2 separate regions of the Homo sapiens genome follow, and region 2 is linked to region 1. The links come from fine-mapping of genetic effects on gene expression. A gene starts in region 1. The other region holds a variant in brackets. All regions are shown on one strand. Distances are between the middles of the regions. Region 1 holds the start of STUM (stum, mechanosensory transduction mediator homolog). Region 2 overlaps STUM (stum, mechanosensory transduction mediator homolog).

Region 1 (2,901 bases):
CCAGAAAAGGCTAAGCGAGTTCTTCTAAGCCATACAGGTTTTAGTGGCTGAACAAAGACTAAAATTTTTAACCCTGTTCTTCTGACTGCCAAACCTAAGCTAATGACTCGTGTGTGTGTGTATCTGTGTATGTGTACACACGCATGTGTGTGTCCACCAGTATCATCACTAACCCCTGGCCATTTGCTTTTAAAATTATTTTATTCAGAGACTTATACAATAAGTATAAGTATACAATAACCCATGTTCTTTTAGCCTCTTCTGAGACCCTGGGTTGTTTATAATAATAATCACTATTATTCCTGAAGGGAGGCTATTGCACCCTTCCAATTATTCAGACGATTTGCTGACTGTCTGGATAATTCCGAAGCCTTTAACCCCTCCCTAACGTTAGAGGCGGTAACTTTCATCCGTTTACTTTTTCCAGGTGCGGAGGCGAAGCAGCCTTATTCAGAAAATCGAATTCAAACAGGACCTCAAGCTGCCGGCTGTTGCTTCTACCAACTGCCCCATTATTAACGCCAGACGGCGCTGTGTCCTCACTGGCTCTTTAACCACCACGTCGGGCTCACAGAAGGCTCAGGTTTCCTCCAGTATAGTTCAGGGGATGGTGAACGCTTCCCAACAAGCCTGCAACAGGCGCATTTCTTTCTGCTTTTGGTGCGTGTGTGTAGGGAAGTGTCCCATCTTTTAACTAGTCTTGCGGAGACCTGGCCTGGTGTTTGCAAATCTGTTTCCTCTATTATCGATCCGATCTCTGGATTGCTTTTTCTCTGACACTTGAAACAAATTCACTCCTATATATTTTTTAAGTGATTTTTTTTTTTTTTTTTTTTTTTTACAAAATAGAGCTGGGGCGGGGGGGGGGGGGTCTCGCTACGTTGCCCAGGCTGGTTTCGAACTCCTGGGCACAAGTAATTCTCCCACCTTGGCCTCCCAAAGTGGGGAATACAGACGGGAGCCACTGCGCTCGCCCCAAACAAAATCATTTAAATCACAATGCACTGAAGGCCGACTAGGTGTCAGGCGCCGCGCGGTCCGTCCCTTGTCCCCATGTCCCTGGCCAAAGGCTTGCTCTAGATCAGGGGACTCAGCCTCGAGGCTTTCCCGACGGTGTCAGCCAAGCACACACTCCCAGTTCGCAGGGCTTCGTGGTCAAGGTTCCTAGTTCACCTGTCTGGGAGGGCGAGGTGTGTCCACCCCTTCCAGCACCTGGGCAAACAGCTCCCTTTGCGGTCCTCTTCCACTGCTTTCCCTCCGCCCTGATTTTCCATTCCTTGTGAGCGGTGGTTTTGGTTGGGGGGAGGGGGCGGGGAAGGGGCCTGGCGAGGAGGGGCGTCAGAGCGCTGTCACCGGGTGTCGCGCCGCCCTCCCCGCCCCTCCGCCGGGCGTGTGGGGACGCCGGAGGGCGGGAGTCTCCGCGAGCCGCGCGGCGCACGGAGCACGGCGGCCGCCTGAGCTCGGCGCGGAGCCCGGAGCCCGCAGCCGACAGTCTCCTGCTCCCGTACGCTGGGCGCCAGCTCCGGCCGTGCTGCCCGGCTGCCTGAGAGCGCGCCCGGCCATGGAGCCCTCGCACAAAGACGCCGAGACGGCGGCGGCGGCGGCGGCGGTGGCGGCGGCGGACCCCCGGGGGGCGTCCTCGTCCAGCGGGGTGGTGGTGCAGGTCCGCGAGAAGAAGGGCCCCCTGCGCGCCGCCATCCCCTACATGCCCTTCCCCGTGGCCGTCATCTGCCTCTTCCTCAACACTTTCGTGCCGGGACTGGGTAAGACACGGCTGCCGCGACCCTTGCGACCCCCACCCCGCCGCGGGAGGGCGTGGGGGGAGAGAAGGGCGCGGCCGGAGACCTCCTGGCGGGGCCGCGCGCTCCAAGTGCTGCGACCACGCGCCACCGCCCGCTCCTGGCGTCCCCGGGCAGGTGGCAGAAGCGCGTGGAGTGTGCACCCCAGAGGGGAGAGGCTGCGCTGGGGTCTCCGACCCGCAGGCGGGGCCCCAAAGAGCCGGAAACTTTGCGGCCAATGTTGGAGCCCGCAGCGGCGGCCGGAATGGCTCTGCCGGCTTCGGAGTAGGGCTCCCGTCCCGGCGCCCCGATTTCTGCTCCTTCTCTCCGTCGTGTGCATCCGTCCGCGAGCCCACTTCCCCGAGAGGAATGGGGTCGGATCAGAATGAGCTCTAGGGCCTCGGCGGCGAGGATCAAACTCCCGGGCGTCGAAGTCAGCTGAGCCGGGGAAAGAGGACGAGCCGGGCTAGATATACCTGCAGCCCCCTTTGGTTCGCGGAGTGCGGACCGCGTGGGGACGAGAACTCTAGCCAGAGTCTCCTCCGCCTCATTCAGGGGTACCTGCACTTCCGCCAGCACCCCGCAGGGCGCCAGGGGGATGGGGGATGATTTTATTAGTTTGGATGCATGTGGCCAGAGATGAACCCATAGCTCCCTCGGATCCCTTCTGTTCCTGAGAAGTAGAGAGTGCGCCGATGTAATTCTGTGCAGGACTCCGGCAGCCGGCAGGGGTTCTGGTGGCATCTATGTCCCACGTTTTAAAGCAGAGGCCCCTTACAGAGATGGTGCAGGAGGGTGAATGGAGGCAGGGAATGAGAAGTTTTCCTGACCCTCCCTCCCTTAACTCCACCCCCAGGTCTCTGCCTGCACGCCCCTCCCCTCCTCCAGCTTGGCACTGGCTGCTCCTGCGTGCTGGGAGGTGCCCCCCTCTCCCGTGCCCGCCCGAAGAACCAGGCGCCCCAGTGCCCTCTCCGGGAGAAAGCGTGCCCCTGTCGGCGAGCCTGTTGCCAACGTATGGTTCCAAGTTCCCAAGAGCAGAGGCCAGCTGGAAGGGGTTTTCAGTTTGACTTTGGCCTTTCTCACGGTCTCCTCGCTCTTCGCCTGCTTAGCAGGGGCCTCTGCT
Region 2 (2,901 bases), 40 kb after region 1:
TGTGGTTAAATTTCTGCTCCAGCTTAACATCCTGGGAAGACCCCTGAAGAGACCTATGGTGTCCAGTTCTGTAGCGCAGCTCCCCAGCCCCGCCACAGAGTGCCCAGGCTGGGAGCACATCAGAGGTCTAGGAGGGGGCAGGCAGAGGGCAGAGGAGGTTTGCTAATAAGCACAGGGAAGCTGATGCACACCCGGCGCCACTAAAATTAATTATTAGCTCCAGTCGCCTTCACCCCCAGCAGGATGAGAACTGATGTCACAGTCAGGAGACTGAGGGGGATGGAGGAGGGAGCTGGTCTCATTTTCCTTCTGTCCTCGGAAGGAAGGACACCAGATGGATGTGTGGCATCCAAGAAGGCTCCTGTCGTCTTTCCTTTATGCCAGTTGGAAAATCAAAGGCACACACTAACAGCTGCAGCCCACCTGATGCCGCAATACACCTGCAGACTGTGACTTACCAGGGTCTCACCTGTACACCCCTTGTCTGCCTGAAGACTCGCACCCCACCGTGTTCCCCTGACCCCCTCAAACCTCACAATCCCAACGCATTTGCCGGAGAACCCTTAGCATTTACCCGAGACCCTGGGAGGAATGAAGAGGGTTTGTCCCAAGCTGGCACTTTCTGACTGGGGAGAGAACAGAGGGCCTCTGGATGTGGGGGAGCAGCTGAGGCTAAGGGAGAAGTGGTTCAAGATGCCATACACCTTCTCTCTGCTGGGAGACAGAAGGCCACCTGTCCACTCTTCCTCATTCTCTTCCATGAAACCCATGCATGGAAAGATTTAAGCCATAATAAATCCACTCTCCCATCTCTAGTTGATCAAAGGTGGGTTATTGGCCACTGGGAACTGCCGATAGCAGGAAAGACCCCTTAGTTACTGCATTGTGATGGGATCACAATGAAATGCTGGCAAGTTCGGCTTTCCAATGGGCAGTGTGACCTCACTATGGTGTCTGTGCTTTCTCTAATGTTGAAAGCCACTCACAGACCCTTTGCTGCTCCAGGATAGAGGCATCGAGGGCACTGGCAGATTCATTCTGCAAAAGTGTGTGGATGTTCAGGATGATGAGGATGCTAGAACTGTTCATGTTTTACTCTGCACTATTCCAGATCGGTTTTATGTTCTGAGTCCTCCTTGCAAATTCCTTGCTGGCCAGGACATGAGGCTGCACACAGTGCTGGGTCTACAAAACACTTTCTAGGGGAATGACTCGGTGCAGTTCTAGGGGAAGACACAGCCCCTCCGCAGACCTGCTCAGCTTCGAACCCTGCGCTGATATGCCCTTTGGTTGACACCTTCCTCTCCCACCTAGTGTGGTCTTCTTGTGCTCTGTTCTGGAGTGGCCGAGCTGAAAGGATGACACTGCCTTCCCTCAGCACATATGAGCACAGGATATCCCATATCTTCTGCTCCATTTCTTGAGAAAACAGAACCCAAAAGAGTTGCCATGAAGAGCATTTGAGTGGCCCAGGACCCTGGCCTTGCTTTCTGCAGCCTCCTCT[G/A]GTTTACTCAGGCCACAGCCATATAGGCCCCATTCACATTCAAGGCTACGCTGATTCTGTGTCCCTGGGACTTGTCCAGAAGTATTTGTGAAACTTGTAGTCAGTTCTCTTTCCTTTCCTTTTCTTTCTGGTTGAAATAATTGCACAATGAGGCAAAGATGATGACTAGACCTCCTGAATCAGACTCTTAGGGTGGTGGGGCCCGGGAAGGTGTATTTTTAGCAATCTCTGATTTTGACCCTGAACATAATCTCCCATTTAGCTTATTCTGGCCTTGAACTAGGCAGCCCTTGGCAATGGGTCCTGTTTCTTAGGGTGTGAAGAACCTGTTTCTTTGGCTTTCAAAATCAGCTGTACATTTCCTTCCTGACCCCCAAAGCTCACATTCAGGGTAAGGCCTTGAAAAAAGGCCTTCCTCAACCAACTCCTCCGGAGAAGTGAGGGAGGGTGTCCAGGTGTAAACCACAGCCACTGAGGAGCAGCACATCATAATGACTGCAGAGCCAGCTGGAGGTGACATCTGGGATCAAACAACTTGCTGGCCTAGGTCCTGGGGGCAGTTTTTACTCTGAAGCAGCTGCTTCGGAAGACAGCTCTGCCTTTCTCCCACTGAGTTCCAAGAGGCTTTAAGATCCCCTCTCCAGACCCAGCACCTCCCAAAGCTCCCACGTGAGTCATGCGAAAAGCTGAACCCGGTGAGAACTCCAAGGACACTTCCAGCTCTCAGGCTCTATCTCGTGGGAGCAGAGCCGCCCCCTTCCTGATGGGAGACTGTACCAGCCACTCCTGGCTGCTTCTCTTCTCGTGCCTGACAGCCAAGCTCCAGGAACTCTCCCCAGAGGACAAGCCCAGAGAATCTCTTTGGGGCTCCCAGGACGGAAGTGGAGGGACCCTTTTCTCTCCCTACTGCCTTGTCTTGGAGCCTGGGCCCGGAGCTCCTTGGGGAAGCTGAGAGTACAGAGACCACAGTGATGGCAGCCAGGGCTCAGCTCTGCTTGTGTTTTTGCTGCAACTCTCCGTGGGAGGACTTCCCCAGGCCTCTGCTGCCTGCCTTTCTTCCCAGGATCATGGTAGGACGTGCAAACCACATGTCTGTGCCTAAGTCCCAGGTATCTTACAACACACTGATTTTGGTGGTTGACAATACAGTTCATTACCATCATTTTCCTTGTGCCAGTTAGTGTTAGCTGGGACCTCCAGGAACAGCATGCGCAGGGCCAGCCTCAGCCTCCCTGTCCCTGCTGCAGAGGACCATCTCCCCGCTCCAGCCCTGAGTCATGTGGGGGAAGCCGTTGGACAGAGTGAAAGGCCAGAATCATGGACTCATTTCTGATGAGGTTGCGTGATTTTCTCGTTCTGTATCTGCCAGGCTAATTCCTCCACCCATCAGAGCGAGG

The links. PIP is the estimated chance that this variant, and not a neighbour inherited with it, causes the effect. A credible set is the group of variants that fine-mapping cannot tell apart.
Region 2: its variant is the best candidate, but not a certain one, in a credible set for the expression of STUM in tibial artery (GTEx, PIP 0.51).

What each region holds. Positions count from the first base shown.
Region 1 is chr1:226,547,344-226,550,244 of GRCh38, forward strand. It overlaps STUM (stum, mechanosensory transduction mediator homolog), which reads left to right and starts at 1,421. Exons shown (of 4, transcript NM_001003665.4): 1 at 1,421-1,763. The coding sequence starts at 1,562. RefSeq lists a silencer at 405-699.
Region 2 is chr1:226,587,019-226,589,919 of GRCh38, forward strand. The region is part of intron 1 of STUM (stum, mechanosensory transduction mediator homolog); the gene reads left to right. Among named protein-coding and RNA genes, the nearest start is that of STUM, 40 kb to the left of the region's middle. The variant G/A (reference allele first, on the strand shown) is at 1,505.